Linked DNA regions of Homo sapiens: all the other regions are reported to be linked to region 1. The links are microRNA targets in miRTarBase. Many come from high-throughput screens and were not tested one by one. Region 1 holds a microRNA gene; each other region holds the end of a gene's coding sequence. Distances are between the middles of the regions.
What was found. Region 1 holds the annotated microRNA hsa-miR-7854-3p (UGAGGUGACCGCAGAUGGGAA, at 1,502-1,522, shown strand). A microRNA usually pairs through its seed, bases 2 to 8, with sites in the 3' UTR of a target mRNA and lowers its output. Matches are read on the target gene's strand: a 7mer-m8 pairs with bases 2 to 8, a 7mer-A1 pairs with bases 2 to 7 and ends in A, and an 8mer does both.

Region 2: miRTarBase lists TEDDM1 as a target of hsa-miR-7854-3p. Seed matches in the 3' UTR shown: 7mer-A1 at 235-241.
Region 3: the mRNA of MSX1 is a reported target of hsa-miR-7854-3p. Seed matches in the 3' UTR shown: 7mer-m8 at 3,443-3,449.
Region 4: the mRNA of TERF2 is a reported target of hsa-miR-7854-3p. The part of its 3' UTR that is shown has no 7-base or 8-base seed match.

The regions. Positions count from the first base shown.
Region 1 is chr16:81,532,441-81,537,147 of GRCh38, forward strand. MIR7854 (microRNA 7854) reads left to right here and starts at 1,462; the gene lies at 1,462-1,526. The region is part of intron 1 of CMIP (c-Maf inducing protein); the gene reads left to right. RefSeq lists enhancers at 1-341, 342-841.
Region 2 is chr1:182,395,161-182,399,867 of GRCh38, reverse strand. TEDDM1 (transmembrane epididymal protein 1) reads left to right here. Exons shown (of 1, transcript NM_172000.4): 1 at 1-1,751. The coding sequence ends at 204. Among named protein-coding and RNA genes, the nearest start is that of TEDDM1, 3.2 kb to the left of the region's middle.
Region 3 is chr4:4,862,009-4,866,715 of GRCh38, reverse strand. It overlaps MSX1 (msh homeobox 1), which reads right to left. Exons shown (of 2, transcript NM_002448.3): 2 at 2,780-4,015. The coding sequence ends at 3,573. Among named protein-coding and RNA genes, the nearest start is that of MSX1, 4.7 kb to the right of the region's middle. RefSeq lists enhancers at 1,300-2,217, 3,735-4,406.
Region 4 is chr16:69,352,968-69,357,674 of GRCh38, reverse strand. TERF2 (telomeric repeat binding factor 2) reads left to right here. Exons shown (of 10, transcript NM_005652.5): 9 at 114-157; 10 at 619-2,108. The coding sequence ends at 777. Among named protein-coding and RNA genes, the nearest start is that of TMED6, 3.5 kb to the right of the region's middle.

The sequences.
Region 1 (4,707 bases):
AGCCCAACAGATAAATCCCTGAACTTATTCGCAGTCTCTAAGTACCTTTAGAATCCCGGGGGTCGCCCTGAGCCTCCCCAGGGACTAGCGCTGTTGCCCTCGCTCAGTCTCGCCACCACAGGAGGCCTCGGCTTGCCCAGCAGCTGAGTCGGGAGAACCTTTCCCAGGTCCCGAGGCAGCGGGAGGCGAAGCCAGGAGACCCACCTGGTGCCAGGGAAGAGCTGTCACCTGGGCCTTTCCTCCAGGAGCCTCCAAGGAAGGTGGAGGTGTGACATCAGAGTGTTGGGATGTGGAGGGGTGTGACTCCCTGGGATGCAGCTCTGTGCCCTGACTCCAGTGTGCCATGCTTGGCTGATCTCTCAATGATTAACTGTGTGACCTTGGACACACCGTGTTGCCTCCTGCGCCTCTCTGCCCAGACAGCATGGCAAGTGAAAGCCTCCCTCCCTTACTGATGGTGTGATCTGGGCTGCCTCCTTGGACACGCCAAGCCTGCTGTGCCTCGAGGCCTTTGCCCTGACTGCTTCCTCTGCCTGGGATGCCTGTTGTCTAAACACCCACACCACACGCTCCCTCGCTTCCCTCCTGTCTCCTGTCAGAAGTCACCTCCTTGGGCTGTCCTTGATCATTCCATCCATCCAAAAAGTTGGCACCCACTCCCACAATTTTTTATTTCTCGTTCCCTGACTTACGTTTTTTTCTCCTGAGCATATGTTATCATCTGACAGACCACGCGTTTCTTACTTATTTTGTTTATTATTCCATCCCACTAGAAAGGCAGGGGTTTGCCTGTTTTTTCCCCATGACTGTATCCCCAGCATTTAGAACAGGGCCTGGCACCTGCTAGATGCTCAGTACATAGTTTTGAGTGAGTGAACGAATGAATGAATCATCAGTCAGTCAAACTTTGCAGCACTCACTTTGTCCATTGGAATAAAGTTTGCCTGTTAAGTACATGGTAGCCACTCAGTACATGGTAGCTAAGGTTATGTGCATGATTTTTTATATTATTGTCATTATGTGCTTTATTGTTTTTATTTTTATTTTTATTTTTTTGAGACGGAGTCTCTTTTTGTCACCCAGGCTGGCATTCAGTGGTGTGATCTTGGCTCACTGCAGCCTCCGTCTCCCGGGTTCAAGCAGTTCTCCTGTCTCAGCCTCCAGAGTAGCTGGGACTATATGCACGTGCCGCCATGCCCAGCTAATTTTTTGTATTTTAGTAGAGACAGGGTTTCACCGTGTTGCCCAGGCTGGTCACAAACTCCTGAGCTCAGGCAGTCCACCTGCCTCTGCCTCCCTAAGTGCTGGGATTACAGGCATGAGCCACCGCGCCTGGCCTATGTGCTTTATTTTTACAATCAGAGGGCTGCACTAGCAGATCTGAGAGCATGACCGGGGTGGAGTCCATGCAGGGCCGCAGGGAACACTAGTCAGAAGGAGGCAGTGAACCTCTCCTGCCCTTTCCTTCCATCTCCATCACCTTGAGCATCTTCTGGGCAGCTGAGGTGACCGCAGATGGGAAGGAAGGGCGCAGAGATGAGCATTTTCTTCTCTCCACCATCTGGTTCCAGGCAGGGCAGGAGAGGGCCCCGTGAGAGCTACTGCTCACGGCTACCACGGCTGCCTGTGGGTCAGAGCATCTCCACGCTGGAGCTGGGCCACACTGGTTCCTGCACCCGGGCAGCCTGTGGCCAGGCTGCGTTTCAAAGCCAGGACTTTCAGGAATGCACCCTTTTGACCACACAGCAAGGCCACACATACCCAATAGCAGTGGACTCTGAGCTCTTTAAAATTGTGAATGTTGCCCAGTGGCCCTCAGTCAGGATTTGTTCCATTAAACCTCATTCACTGCCCTCATTTTATGGGTTTGTTGACTGTTTGCATTTGCTCCGCAAGTTGTTTATATTCTTTGTGTGTTTTATTTTCAATTATGGCATGTGTCTTTAAAAAAAGATTGTAAGGGTTTCTTTTGAAATATAGAAAACTGTTCATCCTTTTTCAAATCATTTATGTAGCAGTTATTACTCTCCAACTTTTTTTGTTTTTCTAGTCTCTTGATTTTGTTTGAGGTATTTATTGATATATAGAAGTTATATATTTTTCTGTGGTCAGAGTTGAGTGTCTTAATTAGTGACTTCTTAATTAGTGTCTTCGTGGCTTAGAGAGTTCTTCCAAATTTTAAGATTGAGCAAACATTCCCCATAAAAAAAAAAACAAAACTATAGAACTGTAAAATTAACCTAGAACTAAGCACCTACACCCAGGATAAATTTTTGGTATAAGGTGTGAGGCAGGGAATAATGCTATTCCTTCCCTCCAAATAGTTAATGGATTGTCTGTTATCATTCACTCAATAGTGTGCCCTTTTCCCATTGCTTTAAAATATTGCTATTATCAGATACTAAATTTTTCAAATATGTGCTAAGTTTCCTTTTAGGCTTTCTGTTAGTTACCACTGATATACTGTCCTTGCTCTGCCACTGTGCTGTTTTATTCCAGCTTCATAGTGTTTTGTTTGTTTGTTTTTTGAGACGGAGTCTTGCTCTGTCTCCCAGGCTGGAGTGCAGAGGCGTGATCTCGGCTCACTCTAAGCTCTGCCTCCCGGGTTCATGCCATTCTCCTGCCTCAGCCTCCTGAGTAGCTGGGACTCCAGGCACCTGCCACCATGCCCAGCTAATTTTTTGTACTTTTAGTAGAGACGGGGTTTCACTGTGTTAGCCAGGATGGTCTCGATCTCCTGACCTAGTGATCTGCCTGCCTCAACCTCCCAAAGTGCTGGCATTACAGGTGTGAGCCACCACGTGGCCCATAATTTTTTTAAAATTGAGCCCTCTCCTTTTAAAGATGAAGGAACTGAGGCACCAGAGAGGTCAAGCAACCTGCCCAAGGTCACACAGCCAAATGCTGTCTGAGAATCTCACATGCATAAAATTCCAGTGTATTTAACCTTCTCGTGGGCTGTGTCTCATGATGCTTCCCTGTGCTTCTTTCCTGTCACTTCTGCTCATGGTATAGCACTGGAATGCTTTTTTTTTTTTTTTTTTTAAACAGCTGTTGTACGTTCTTTCTCTAAGTGGAGCTAGTCAGAAAAAGCTGCATGAAGCTACTAGCAAGAATGAGATCAGACACGTGAATTTTGTAGTACTGTGCCTGGCATAGAAAAAGCCCTTAATCTATTAGTAATAATACAATTATTATTATTTCCATTGATGTTGACTTTTTGTAAGGTACGTCCTCATTTGAAGCATCAGTCAGTTTGGTGATCAGTTGCCCTTGAGTGTTCAGACACTCGTTTACAGATGTTGGACCCTGTTACCCACCTTCCCCTCCCACCATAAATTACCGAGGTCACCCCAGACTCTGAACTGGCTGACAAGCTGTTACAGTGATAGAAAGTTTTGCACTTGAGCATTCCCACAAGCTCCTAGGACTCCAGGTCAGTTTACATGTTCCAGGTTTTTGAGAAAATTGTCCACGCTGACTTCAAGGCGAGAGCATCTTGGATCTCCTCCCAGAGAGAGTCGTGTCACCTGAGGGCCCAGGGAACCTCGGTGACAAGGGACCTCTTGTCTGCTGTGTGCTGTGGGCTGATGTGATCCCTGTTTGCAGTGTAAACTCATAAGCAGGGACCCGAAGCATCCCCCGACCCCTGGCTTTGCAGAGCAGCCATAACCAGCCAGTATGAAGATTAATTTCCCTGTAAAACCTTTGAAATCAGGTAAGTGTTAATTATTAAAATTTCACGAGGAGAGGCTTGTTTGGTGTGAAGGCTTCCAGCTTGCTGAGGGTGACCTGGAACTTGTTGTGAGGATGACCAAAGGTACTTGGGAGTGCTCCTTGCCTTGCTGTGGCAATTGGAAGTCTTCATCTTACCTTGCGCCATGCAGGGAGGGTGTGCCCTGGATGGACCCAGTGTGGCCTGTGTGCTTGCTATTCGGTACCTCTCTCACCTGTCATTAACTCGGGGGCATTATAAATTGATCGTCAGGATAAGAATATTCTCTTATAGTTCATCTTTTTAAAAAAATGGTGATAAGATACACAGAACATAATGCCCTGTCCTAACCATTTTTAAGTGTGCAGATCAATAGTGTTAAGTATATTCACATTGTAGCACAACCCGTCTCCGGAACCTTCTTTCTATAAATGCAGAATTAGGGTTGGCTACCTCAGGTGGACACCTGGTTCATGACCTTTGATGAAGTGGGTAGAACTTATTTAGAGCAGGAGGCCGAGGGACAACAGCACCAGCCTTTGTGGTAGGTGTTAATACCTCTCATTTTTCAGATGAGGAAACTGAGGCACTGCTTGTCTTTTTTTTTTCCAGTAAAATGTTGTTATAGAAACATACGTGCGTCACATACATCCGGAAGCATGCACACGTACAGCTCAGTGAATTTTTGCCAACTCAGCACGCACGTGTAACCAGCGCCCAAATCAAGAGACAACATACTGAGCAGTACCCCACCCCCTGCCCTGCACCTCCCGCCAGCCGTTGCTCTCCCCAGGGGTAACTGCTCTCCTGGCTTGTATCAGTGTCTAATGGTTTTGCCCGCTTGTGAACTCCACATCTGTGCAGTTGTTTGGCATGTATGATTTTGTCTGGCATTTTTCCCATGACATATTAGTGTGACTTTAAGAGTAAGTTGCTGGAAACTTCAGGACCAGTCATGGCAGAACTGGGCTACAGACTCAGAGCAGGGTCCC
Region 2 (4,707 bases), not on the chromosome of region 1:
ATGATCAATGCCTCATTCCTGTTGGGAATCTATGGCTTCTCTTCCTTTTGGTATCATTGTTTCAGACCCAGCTTGAAGCTGACTGGGCCCAAAGAAGCTCCATATTATGCAAGCACTCCAGGACCCCTCTACAAGTTGCTACAGGAAGTGGAGCAGTCAGAGAAAGAGGACCAGGCTCTCCTCCTTCCAAAGAGCTCCCCCTGAGACAGGGCCTACAGTGGCTGGCACATCGTCCACCTCATCTTCCTCCTGTTGGCTCCTCAGCCACGAGCATGGTACCCTCCTTGGTAAAGGTAATGGCCTTGAAGGCTAGCAGTTGGTCCCGTCTGCTGGTTCATTTTCTTTTCTTCTCTTTTCTTTTTTTTTTTTTTTGAGACAGAGTCTCGCTCTGTTGCCCAGCCTGGAGTGCAATGGCACAATCTCAGCTCAGTGCAACCTCCGCCTCCCGAGTTCAAGCGATTCTCCTGCCTCAGCCTCCCGAGTAGCTGCAATTACAGGAGCCTGCCACCATGCCCGTGCTGGTGCATTTTCTGTCCCTGAGCCTCTAATTACTGAGAAGATAAGGGGAGAGGGATTGAGAAAGAGACGCTGATGGGATTTGCGGGAGGGAGGGAAAAGGACGAGGAGAACACTTCTTCTTAGTGTGCAAGAAAAGCCACTGGGGGAAGAGAATGCAACAAAAGGAAGAGCTGTGAAGGGAGGAGAACAGAGTCTAGCAGTTATGCTGTCATTAGCGTCATCAGGCACAAGGGATTGCCTTTTACCTGAGGGAATAAAGACTTCTCACAACTCAAAACTGGACCCATTCAAATCTCATCTTGATAAAGAAAAGTGGGTACTTTACGTGCTCACCAAAGTGGTGCCACCATGTGGAAATAGCATGATAGAATTTATAATTAATTCATACAGGCTGAAATTATGCTCGCTTTGCCTCCTTCTCTCTCCGCAGCTTTCAAGAATTGGCTTCATTTCAAACTTTACATATAAAGTGAGACTTTTTAAATACTTAATAACATTTCAAATTTCCATAATTTAAATTTGTATAGAATTCAACTGCTATAGCATTTTTATAGCATTCAAATGCTTGGTACTTCCCTGACTTCTCATTTTATTACTCTTATTCTAGCCCAAACTTTCCTTTTCACCATGACCACCCTTGCACATGCAATTTAGCAGATACCATTCTTGGGTCTTTGCAAATTTCTTTTCCTTGCAAATCACAGCCAGTCATCCTACAGTCACATATTTACCATGTTATTCGATTCCCAGAATAAACCTACATCCACCCCCACACCGCACCAAGTATCCCCAAGGTGGCCTTCTCCAGAACTCTTACTGATTCCCTTGTTTTGGAACTCTTGGGCACTTACATTAAATCTGCTTTGTTAGTTTGCTCATACAGGTGACCCACTTTCTTTTATACTGCTGCTGAAATCATTTTCTTTCAGAAGGTTCTTCCTCACCCACTAAAGTACAGGCTCCTAAAGGGAAAAGACTTTGCCTTATCCAAGTTACCAAATTTCCTATGTATACTCCAGCTATGGATCATGGTTATGTTTAATAAAGCCTTCTTTGCTTCCAGAGTCTTCCCTAATCCTGTTTCTTCTAAATGTATTGCTGGACAGGTTGGAGGTTTTGTGAATCTCTCTGGGTGACAACAACAGTCCTGAACACTGAGTCACTGCCTTAGTAATGCACCCACTCTCTTCCTTGTTTTGGGGTATAATAAAATCCAGTAACTTGTTTCTGAAGTTGACTCTGTTATTGTTTTTAATCCTCACAAATGTTTCTATAAGGAGTCTCTAGAAAACTGAGACTCCAGCAGGTTGACTTGCCCAAGTCTCACAGTTGGTATGAGGCAACACAGGAATTTAAGTGCAGGTGTGTCTGACGCAAGTGTGACTGTGTCCTCTGGGCCACAGTGACTTTGCTAATGGCAATGGAGAAACAAGTTATCTCAAAATGAAAAAAATGAAATTGTGAAAGAAAGAAGAAAGACGGCTGGGCACTGTGGCTCACGCCTATAATCCCAGCACTTTGCGAGGCCAAGGCGGGCGGATCCCTTGAGGTCAGGAGTTCGAGACCAGCTTGGTCAACATGGTGAAACCCTGTCTCTACTAAATATACAAAAATTAGCTAGGTGTGGTGGCCCACACCTATAATCCCAGATACTTGGGAGGCTAAGGCAGGAGAATCACTTGAACCTGGGAGGCGGAGGTTGCAGTGAGCTGAGATTGCACTACTGCACCCTAGCCTGGGTGACAGAGTGAGACTATGTCTTAAAAAAAAAAGAAAAAAGAAAAGAAGGAAGGAAAGAAAGAAAGAAAGAAAGAAAGAAAGAAAGAAAGAAAGAAAGAAAGAAAGAAAGAAAAGAAAACAAGCCAGAAAGCCCAGGTAAAGCAAACAGCACAGTGTAAACACCCTAGACCTCCCTTAGGAGTGGGTTTATGCAACACTTTCTGTCCCCTACCCTGACCCCCATCTCCCCCGGGGGGTGAGAATCTGGCAGACTCTCAACTTCTGGCTGGGTCTTACATTTCTGGGCTCAGATCCAAAGCAAGAGCTGGGGATAAGACTTGTTTTTGACCAAGGCTTCTAAAGTTTGCCATTTCCCCTTTACTCTTGGTTCCTAGCCTTTTTTCAATTACTTTTCTTTGGGAGCCTTCCTTTTCTCTTTACCTCTCTTACACATTAATGGGAGGTGATGAAAAAGCACAAACACTTAGCTGCCTGTTTCCTGTAATGAGGCTTAATTCTATAACAATAAGCCTCTGGTAATCAAGTGATACCCCCCAACATAATAGCTTTCAAATATTCAGTGTAGGCAATAAGCCTGCATGTTATTAACTTACTAGATTTAAGATGTAACAGAAAGGTCCTCCCACTAAAGGCTACTCAAGAAAAAACTCAAAGCACTCAAGCTTTGGGGGAGTTTGTCATTCTCACAAAATTCCACAAGAGGGCACTAGGTTCACACCACCCCGGCCAAGCTTCTGATTCTCCAACCCCAGTAAACAAGTCTCCGGAGAACGGGTTTAAAAGAAGTGGAAGAGGAGAACGGACAGGAAAAATCCAGAAGCAGACTAAGAATTGCCCAAGCATCCAGAAAACATACCCTAGGGCTGTTTGTTTCCTGTTAAAATTTGGCGAGTCAATGTGAAATAAACAGGGATCCAAATTAACTAATGAGGTGGGAGGGGAGGGAGGAAGGGCTGTGGATCCCATTGAGGATTTCTTTGGGAATGGTACCAACTAAAGCACATACTCTGATCTAAATAATTTTTTGATCAGAATGCTAAATTCTCTAAATTTTTTAATTAGCTTCAATAATGTTCCAATCAATCTACAGAACAACGATCTGTACAGTGTAAATTGAGAATAAAGGACAAAATGTATCTAAAAAAACCCGATTCACAAAACAATGAAACTGGAGGCAGATTATCAGATGTGAAAAATGATCTCCAAAGAGTCCTTCAAAGAGAATCTTTCCTATGGTGTTGTTTTTTTCTGCTAATCTAGTTATTCACAAAGAAAATATATATTGAGTGTCTGCTATACAGAAGTCACTGGGTAAGCATACCCAGGATTGAGAGGTAAATGGTTGCTCCCTGTCCTCTGCACCTCCCTCAGTGAGGACTGTAGGAATTTCAGTATTTTAGAGATGGTGGCCCCGGAACAGATCACCCACAGACCAAAGCGACTAAAGGAAAGGGAACAGAAAAAGAACAGCACCTTGAAAGCTCATTAAGCTCTAAAATACTAACCAAACATGACTTCATCAAGTTACTATGAGTTATCTAAGCCTCAGTTCCTCATCTTTAAGATAGAATGATGTGAAGATCTAATTCTAGAATTGTATGGCTTTAATTTTCTCAATAGGACATTTTCCCCAGGTTGTTAACTAAGATGAACTTGATTCTTCCCAACTTTCCACGTAGTTTCCTGCTAGAGACATGATTCAGGGTAGAGCTCAAACAGACCCAAACCTTCCATCATAACACGCAGTTGGGGAAATGAAGTGTTCCTTGTATTTGACTGATTTCAGCACGCATCCTACAAAACTCAAATCAGGCTACAGATATGGCTGAGACGTGAATTTCCAATTTCCTGTCTTGAACTGAAGAATATCAAACAATCAAAAACTGTAAAGAACAATTCCTCCATTCTTAGTGCTAGTTATTGAACTGAAGTATAATGTAAATGTAGTCTTTCCTTCTCTAATTGTATAAAGTGAAATTTGAAAGCTTGGCCAACTACAGCTTTTCCCTAAATTATGGTTTAAGAATAATGCTATCAACTTCCAGAGCTATTTCTTTTCTTCTTCATTTTTATTATTATTATTTTGATTTGGTTTAAGATTCTACTATGGTCCATTCTTTTGGAAAGAACTGATGTTGGTTTATTACATAATAATAATTTTTAAAAGAATATTTTACAATTCTGGGTTGGGTTTCCAGGGTGTTCCCCAACCCTGAGTCTCAATTGTATCTCTTTAACATGATTTAAAGGTCTCACTGAATGCCTATTGAAATCATTCATACACAGGGAAAACTCCATTTCCTAAACAGAAAAGGTTTGGTCAATGTGAGCCCTACCCTAAATTTTGTGTCTAATGTGTATAAGGCAACCACACAGGCCCTGGGAAGGCACTCCAGATCCCCAGGTAAAGGACTTCATACTTGCAGAGTGAGAATGGATCCTTTAAAA
Region 3 (4,707 bases), not on the chromosome of region 1:
CGCAGGAGAGCTGCTCAGGCACCAGGTGACCCTCAACCAGATGGAGATGGGCAATGCGGGAAAAACCGGATCCTCGAGTGGAATCCGTGTTGGAATTCCTGCTATGTCCTTCATTAACTGTGTAACCTTGGGAAAACCATGTCACCTCTCTGAGCTGCAGTCCTTTGCGCTATAAAAATCTCCTAGGTGTGTTGGGAGTCAGCGTGAGCGGGAACTCCCGGCACACAGTAGGCTGTGAGTGCAGACTGCTCCATCACTACCTCCCAGCGCGGAAGGTGGCCGACCTCTCCGCCTGGTAGATCCCATGTTTCTTGCCAGAGAAGGAAATTGGTCCGTAAAGGAACAGACCCAGGAAACCCCTGCCCACTCCGCCCTCGGTTGATAAACCAGGGAACACAGTTCGAAGGACTGGGATGGACGAGAAGCAGTGCCGGAAGCGCAGCCGCGATTTCCGGCCGGACCCGGCTGACTGTGGCTCTGGGTGTTCTCCCCACACCAGCGTGCCGCTCCGATCTAGCAAACAATTATCGAGCACCTTCTGTGTGCACACCCTGTTCAGAGAGGGAATGCGGAAACAAAAGGGGGGCAAAGAATGGGCTAGACGGACAGAAACAAAAATGGGGAGATTCGGAGGCCCAGAAGTGGAAGGAAGCCCCTAGCCAAGGCCAGCAGCCAGAGGCGGAGGCGCGCGCGGGCCGGGGTCCCAGGGAGGCCGGGCCCTCGCACCCGGGCTGCGGCGCAGGGAGGGGGCGGGGAGGCGCGCCCGCCTCGCCTGCAGCTACCGCCTCGCTGGAGCCGCGACGCGTCTGCAGAGGGTGAGCCGTTGCTCATTACCGCAATTATGTTGCTCTAAATTTGCCTCTACCCTAAATTGCCAAACTCCAAGGAGCCAGGAGGTCCTGGAGCCGGGGCCGGGGGAGACACCCGATCCTGCCCTGCCATTTCCCTATCACGAACGCGCGGAAAAAAACTTCAGTGCTGCGGGCGCGCAGTAAGCCAAGAAAAGTCAGATGCACCCGGTATTCCCTGGGTGCCCTCCCGCGCGGGGGCTTGTCGACACTTCCCCCAAATCCTGGGGTGTAGGGGGAAGAGTCCAAGGCCCATTTCACAGACGAGAAAAAGGCGGTGCAGAGAGATGATATGATCTTTTATAGTAAGTGGCGGGCTTGATCCACACTGAACCACATTGGCTCTCTGACTCCAAGTTCAATACTAACCCCACGACGAGGACGTCTCTAGCGTGTTCCAGAAAAGAACCCAGATTTGCCAGAGCCGGGCGTCCTGCGCGCCGTCATTCGAGGGTTACTTAATTTATAGAGGAAAGAAAAAAGAAAAAAAACGCGGCGAGGCACTTCAGCCCTAAAGCACCTTTAGAGAGCTGCGTGGTGTGGGAGTCTGAGACCTTGTTATGCATAGCTCCCCTTTGGGGGGCGAAAAGGCCCAGACCCGGGCTCTGGTGCTTTTCTAGAAGTTCCCAGGCCGAGGGCAACAGCTCCGGGGCTCCCCAGGAGCGAAACTGCCCTCCACAGCAAGCTTTTCTTCTTAAGGAGCGGGGTTGTAACAAGTTCATACTGCAGCTCCAGCCAGGGAAGACAGAACCTTTGCCCGAGCTGCAGAGGCTGGAGGATCCGAAGCCCAGGACGCCCCGGAATGTGCCCGGCGCCCGTGCAGAACCTGCCCAGGGCGCGTTCCCGCAACCCTGGGCTCGCTGGGAATTCCTAGACCGACCTAAGGGTCCTGGGGCTAGAAACCGCGCGCTGCCCTTGGGGCTCTGTTTTTAACGTCTCTATCTGTGAAGCTGTTCACCCCTGTTCAAGTCCAACGCCAGGTACCCAGGTTTCGAACCATCTTTAGTCTACTGACCTCCGGCTTAACGGCTTACTGCAGACTGTCCGGCGCTATCCTGCGTGGAATTTGGAGGAGCGGGTCACCGCGGGACAGAGGCTGAAGGAGGAGAGGGATGCGCAGGTCTGCCGCCGCCCGAACACGAAAGACAACAGAGCGGTGCCTGGAGCTTAATAGGCTTTATTTAATCAGGGGGTAATTTTCTGCATTCGGCGTCCTTGCAGAATTCCCCGGAAAGCTAAACTTGGCGCGTGTGCAAATATATTCTCCTGGAAGACTGATCTTAAGAAAAACCGAGTTTGTGAGGGTTTGGAAACAGGGCTCCTGCAGAGGACTTTCCAGGCGAGAGTGGAAGGTGGCCCTGGGTTTTCTGTAAACTTTGTTAGGTTGTGTTGTGTTTTTAGCGGCCAGAATAGGGGGTGAGAAGGTTCTTATATTCTGGCAGCTCAAAATTAGTTCCACAAACCGCGTCTACAGTGGGGGTAATTTAGAGAGGCAACGCAATCGCTTCCATCCCCCACCTGGCCTCCCGTGGGAAAAACAGATTTGCGGAGGTGGGAATTGTCTGGATTAGCTGTCCACACTCATCAAACCATTTGGGCGATTTGCTTTGTTTTCATAGACAGGTTAAAAGGAGAGAAAGAAAGCAAGAGTTGGTTATAGGTTGCCCGAGTAAGTGTCGATTTCAGCTTAAAGTGAATTGGAAAATTGAGCCTAATTATCCTAGGTAATTACTTCAACTCTCCACTTGACTTTCCTAATGCAGATCTGTCGTGGGTGTTCAAAAAGACACCCCCCTCTATCCCTGCATACCCTGTTATCACCTTTCAAAGTTGCTGTCGTAAAAGTACCGTCAAACTGAAAAGCAACTGTACACATAAAGAGATAGCAAGAAGCAAAATTAAAATAAAAGACTCAATCAGTAAAGAGATAATTTTTGTAGCTTAAAATTAATTTATTTAACAAATATAGCTATAATATAAATGATAATAAAATTTCAAATATACAGTATATTACATAGTACACACAATCCCTTCCAAAGGGATGTTTGAGAGCCACACAAATGTACTGTTAAATAGAAAGAGTTTTTTTTTTTTTTTAATTTTACAATTGTGTTTCTGGTACTGGTAAGAGAGAGGTCCCTTCAACCTACCTTTGCAACACATCTGTGTTTTCCCTGCCCCCCAGAGCAAATGTTTTGTTGTTGAACTTGTCTTAAATTTTCCAATGGAAGAAGCTAGGATTCATCTTCCTGGCTGGCTAGTCTTTTTTTTCTCTTTTCTTTTTTTTTTTTTTTTTTTTTTTTTTTTTTTTTTTTGAGATTGTTCTCATTTCCAAAATCGTCAGACACCGATTTCTCTGCGCTTTTCTTGCCTGGTGTCAGGACAGGGAAAAGCTATGCAGGAGACATGGCCTCTAGCTCTGTTCAACTGTCAATTCTGCTGGGGACCTTAGATAAATCTGTTAACCTCTCTGCCCTCAGTTTCCCCATCTTTAACTCGAGAGTGTAGATCTAAATGCTAGAAGAGTACTAAGGGACTCTTCCAGCCACTTTTTGGCAGGGATCAGACTTCGGAGAGTGAACTCAGGGAGCAAAGAGGTGAAACTGGAGCAGTGTGAGGGTTAAAGGGAAGGCGGCTGGCGGTGCCGAGCAGGGGAGCACGTCGGGGGTACAGCACCAGGGCTGGAGGAATCGGCTGGCCCACAGGTGGGCGACCTGGGACCCTCTATGTCAGGTGGTACATGCTGTAGCCCACATGGGCCGTGTAGAGTCCCACGGGCGCCACAGGCAGCGCGGCGCGCTGGAAGGGGCCAGAGGCACCGTAGAGCGAGGCACCCGCCGCGGCCGCTACAGCTGCGGGGCCGCCGAGAGGGAAGGAGAGGCCGAAGGCAGCCGGTGGCAGCATGGGCTTGGCGGCCATCTTCAGCTTCTCCAGCTCTGCCTCTTGTAGTCTCTTTGCCTTGGCGCGGCGGTTCTGGAACCATATCTTCACCTGCGTCTCAGTGAGGCTGAGCGAGCTGGAGAACTCCGCGCGCTCGGCGATGGACAGGTACTGCTTCTGGCGGAACTTGCGCTCCAGCGCCAGCAGCTGCGCGGTGGTGAAGGGCGTCCGCGGCTTACGGTTCGTCTTGTGTTTGCGGAGGGTGCAGGCTGGGGGGCTCAGCCGCCCTGAGGGCCGAAAGAAAAAAAAAGCAAGGGGTTAAGAGAGAAGCATTGGAGCATGATCAGCCCAAGAAGTAGTAATAATAGCCAAACAATACCAGATATTGAGTGCCGCCAAGTGCCTCGGTGCCGGGCATCGCGCAAGGCACTTGAAATATATTTTCTCCAATTCCCATTGCAACCCCGCAGGGGAGAAGTTCCTGTCTACTTTTTGCAAATGAAGAAACTAAGATTCCAGGAGAAAAATACCCACGTTGAAGGCTCGATGTCCACATCTTAGGCCTAAACAGCTGGGAAGATGTGAAATCACCTTTGTGCTGCCCGGCGGCTTAGGAAGGCCTTCATGGCGGGCCTCCTCCCAGGGCCATCCAGAGGAAAGGTGGATGTTAATACAGTTGACGAACATGCAGAAAGAGGCCCTGCGCCCAGCCCAAGGGCACATTTAGTTTTACGCGTTGGCCAAACATTTATCAGTGCCCACGGAGTGCTTCAGTGTGGGGCTAGGCAGTTTTGTGGCATAGAATCCAAATCAAATTCTACACTTTCCCCGGAACACTTCGCTCCTACGGGATTCTAGGAGTAGTTCCCGCAGACCAGAGATGGAGCAGCGCAGACCATCATGGAGGGTGCACTGTGGCCAGCCCTCTTAGAAACAGAAAGTGTCATCTGGAGCGGAGAACGAGGGGCTGCTTTATTCT
Region 4 (4,707 bases), 12 Mb from region 1:
ATGCTTGTGAAATTTGAAGAAGTTTTCCCTTTGGGGACATTCCATGTCTTTTTCTTGTGGTTTGTGCAGAGAAAGGTGAACTCTGAAATGAGTCTACTTTTAATGTTTTCCAGCAGCACCAGATGAAGACAGTACAACCAATATAACAAAAAAGCAGGTAATTTAAAATTCTCTTTTCTGTTACTGGTTATGTGGGTAGAGCAGAGGTAAAATACGCGCCCTGTCTCACAGGTATAGACTGGTTATGTACCCAGTAAAAACCTTTTTTTGAGATTTTCAGATAATCCAAACTAAGTTAAAGTAATAATTATCTTCTGGAAGAAAAGACTAGGAAAACAGATGACACATTTTCCGGAACATGAATGATGTAGATATGTTTGCAGTTTGGAATGCAGAAGTGATTGTTACTTGAGGATCAAATGGCAGGACATCAAGAATTCCTGTGTCCAGATCCACAGTGCTCATATCTTGTCCATTCCATGTTTAAAAACATAAGCTGTGATTTCAGGTTCAGATGATTCTCCTGGGATTCTTGAGTTTACCTTATCACTACATTGGAGAAAATGTAAGTAAGTGGAGAGGAAAGGTGGTAATAAATCTTTTGGTTTTCTTTTGCAGAAGTGGACTGTAGAAGAAAGCGAGTGGGTCAAGGCTGGAGTGCAGAAATATGGGGAAGGAAACTGGGCTGCCATTTCTAAAAATTACCCATTTGTTAACCGAACAGCTGTGATGATTAAGGATCGCTGGCGGACCATGAAAAGACTTGGCATGAACTGAAACAGGCTTTCATTTCCACAGAATTCACAGGAGCATGGTTCCTAATAATAGCCCCTGATAGTCTGCTCTTTCTTTCTTTTTCTTTTTTTTTTTTTTTTGAGACAGAGTCTCGCTCTGTCACCCAGGCTGGAGTGCAGTGGCGTGATCTCGGCTCACTGCGACCTCCGTCTCCCGGGCTCACGCCATTCTCCTGCCTCAGCCTCCCGAGTAGCTGGGACTACAGGCGCCCGCCATCACGCCCGGCTAATGTTTTGTATTTTTAGTAGAGACGGGGTTTCACCGTGTTAGCCAGGATGGTCTCGATCTCCTGACCTCGTGATCCACCCAACTCGGCCTCCCAAAGTGCTGGGATTACAGGCATGAGCCACCGCGCCTGGCATCTGCTGTTTCTTTCAGAAGCTGGGCTGGGATGAGAATTTTGGGCAACCTCCTTCGACGTGGGGGAGGTCCCATTTCCACTTCATCACTGTTGGAGATCATGGAGCTAAGAAGCAGAGCCAAGTCCACCCATGTCCTTGGCAGAGATGACAGGCACACAGCTTGTGCAGTGCCAGAATATCATTAGCGTTTCCCTTCTTTAGTGGTTTGCTTAAATTTAAATCCCTGGTAATCTGTAGAACCTTCTCCTAGGAAATGGTGAAGTCTATTAGGAGCCACTTGTGACTCCATGACCTGTTAAAACCAGCAATGTGAGTATTATTTGGAGTAAATTTGTTCCACGTCAAGTTCTGGCCTTCTGATGCAAATGCAAAGGAACTTAGTCTGTTATGAACCCAGGTTGATGACAGACCAGTCCTTGTGGAATAAGATTCCCTTTAAAAACTCTTTAGCCAGTCGTGACATCAACCCTAGACCTGTCTGCCTTGGCATTTGCTGTCAACATCTGCTGGGCTATGTAGGCAGGTTAATCCTCCACTTCTCATGTGGTTGAACCAGTGTGTTTTTTGGTAAAATGGTGATTGTAGATAAGATTAGTTCCCTGATCCCCTGCCCCCTGTCCCCTGCCTCTTTTCCCAATTCCCTTCCTTATGCTGGACTTTTAAAGCTTAAAAAAAATCCGATTGAATATAAATGCCTAATTTCATTCTTTGTGAAATGGTTGCTTCCTCCTGATTCCCTAATTGTGCTGTGTTCGTGTCTTGCACTGGAATTCAACATTCCCTTCTCCTTTTGTACTGTGTTGTGCTTGCTGTCTCTCCCGGACACCCTTAAAGACTGTCTTTTTAGCAAAAAATTTCAGTAAAGTGTTTTCTGTAATCTTTTTTTAAAAGGTGAGAACTAATTATTGTCCATACTTGTAGCATTCTTCATTAAAGTCTTGCTTCTCTCAACTGTAAGTAGCTGTTTAATTGCAGCACAGCATGTATCCACAGAGGGAGGTAGCAAAATGTTAAACTTTGCTGAACTATTTTGATCAAGAAGCTGATGTCAGACTTTATTGAATGTTTTAATCCTTGGAAGCTATGTCAAACAGATGATATGGAAGTTTCCTCTTAACCTTTCAGTTTCCTCATATATCATTTCTGGGGACAAAAGAATTCCCCCTTTCTCACTTCTGAGTGAGTGAAAGGCAAGGCTTAAAGAAATGCTAAAGTTTTAAAATTCATCCATTAGGCCAGGCATGGTGGCTAATGCCTGTAATCCCAGCACTCTGGGAGGCCGAGGCAGGAGGATCACTTGAGGTCAGGAGTTCGAGACCAGCGCGGCCAACATAGTAAAACCCTATGTACTAAAAATACAAAAATTAGCTGGGCGTGGTGGCGGGTGCCTGTAATCCCAGCTATTCAGGAGGCTGAGGCACAAGAATCGCTTGAACTCGGGAGATGGAGGTTGCAACGAGCCAAGATCATGCCACTGCACTCCAGCCTGGGCAACAAAGCGAGACTCTATCTCAAAACAAAACAAAACTGGCTGGGAGCCATGGCTCACCCCTGTAATCCCAGCACTTTGCGAGGCCAAGAAGGGTAGGATCACCTGAGGTCAGGAGTTCAAGACCAGCCTGGCCAACATGGTGAAACCCCATCTCTACTAAAAATACAAAAACTTAGCCAGCCATGGTGGCAGGCGCCTGTAATCCCGACCTCTCGGGAGGCTGAGGCAGGAGAATTGCTTGAACTTGGGAGGCGGAGGTTGTGATGAGCGGAGATGGTGCCATTGCACTCCAGCCTGGGCAAAAAGAGCAAAACTCCTTCTCAAAAAAAAAAAAAAAAAGTTTAAAATTAAAAATTTTGAAAAATACAAAATTAGCCAGGCATGGTGGCAGGCGCCTGTAGTCCCAGCTACTCGGAAGGCTGAGGCAGGAGAATCGCTTGAACCGGGGAGGTGGCGGTTGCAATAAACCGAGATCGCACCACTGCACTCCAGCCTGGGTGATAGAGTGAGACTCCATCTCAAAAAAAAAAAAAATTCATCCATTAGTTACAAGTTGGAAACTTCATACAGCTTTATTACCTATTAACTGCATTTTGGGGTTTAGTACCTATTGTTCTTCTATCAACCAACCCCAACTGAAACCACAGGGAGAAGTTGAGAACTTGAGCTCCTTTCAGGCTAGCCGCCTTCTGCCTGCAGCTGGTTTGGTCTCCCTCTGAACCGGATTAGAATCCAGAAGCTTTTCTCCCCTTAACTCTCATGTGAGTCAATGGTGCTCTCCAGGTAGAGGAGTGAAACTGATGCATTTAGGGAAACAAAATATCCTAATCAGTGTTTCTTTTTATTTATTTATTTATTTATTTATTTATTTATTTATTTATTTATGAAATGGAGTCTCACTCTGTCACCCAGGCTGGAGTGCAGTGGTGCTATCTCAGCTCACTGCAAGCTCTGCCTCTGGGTTCACACCATTCTCCTGCCTCAGCCTCCTGAGTAGCTGGGACTACAGGCACCCGCCACCACACCTGGCTAATTTTTTGTATTTTTCGTAGAGATGGGGTTTCACCGTGTTAGCCAGGATGGTCTCGATCTCCTGACCTCGTGATCCGCCCACCTCAGCCTCCCAAAGTGCTGGGATTACAGGCGTGAGCCACCACACCCGGCATCAGTGTTTCTTAAACTTGAGAATGCCTATGTTCATTAATATTTTTTCACATAATTCAGTGTTGTTTTTATTATAGTTATTGAAATGTGTGCAAAGATAAAACTATGCTTACAGCTTCTGTAGAACTATAAAACTTACTATGAACTGACGATTGTTTCGCCGAAACCAAGTCACTGCTTATGGCATGACCAGTGCTAGGACTGCGACGGTGGTGGGACTCGGGTGGGGGATGCCTGTGCCACGTGTGCTGATAGAAGTTCCCAGACTCTTCTGTCACTTGAGCAAGACTGCCATAGAGCCACTGTGCTCCCAGAGTGCTGTGCTGTCATTTGGCCTTTGCTAGAACTGAACCCCATGTATAGAGTCTGTTTTCTGCCTACTTAGCTTGTGACACTTTGAGTCAATGCAAATAATTGCTGGAAGGTGTTAATGCTGTTTTGTTTTTTGTTTTTTAAGATTATGACTAAGGCTAGGCACGGTGGCTCACACCTGTAATCCTAGCACTTCAGGAGGCCAAAGCATGGGGATCACTTGAGCCCAGGAGTTTGAGACCAGCCTAGGCAACATGGCAAAACCTCATCTCTACAAACAATACAAAAATCAGCCAGGTGTGGTGGTGCACTCCTGTGGGTCCAGCTACTTGGGAGGCTGAGGTGGGAGGATCGTTTGAGCCCAAGGGGGTGAGGCTGCAGTGAGCTATGTTTGTGCCACTGCACTCCAGCCTGGAAGACAGAGTGATACCATCTCAAGGAAGCAAAAAAAAAAAAAAAAAAAAAAGATTAGGACTGAAAAATGGTTAGGCAGTGTCAGAACTCAGAGACTGACAGCTTGAGAATGAGAAACACTGTCCTGCCTGGTGGTTAAGAGCATGAGCCCCCACCGGGGACCCAGCT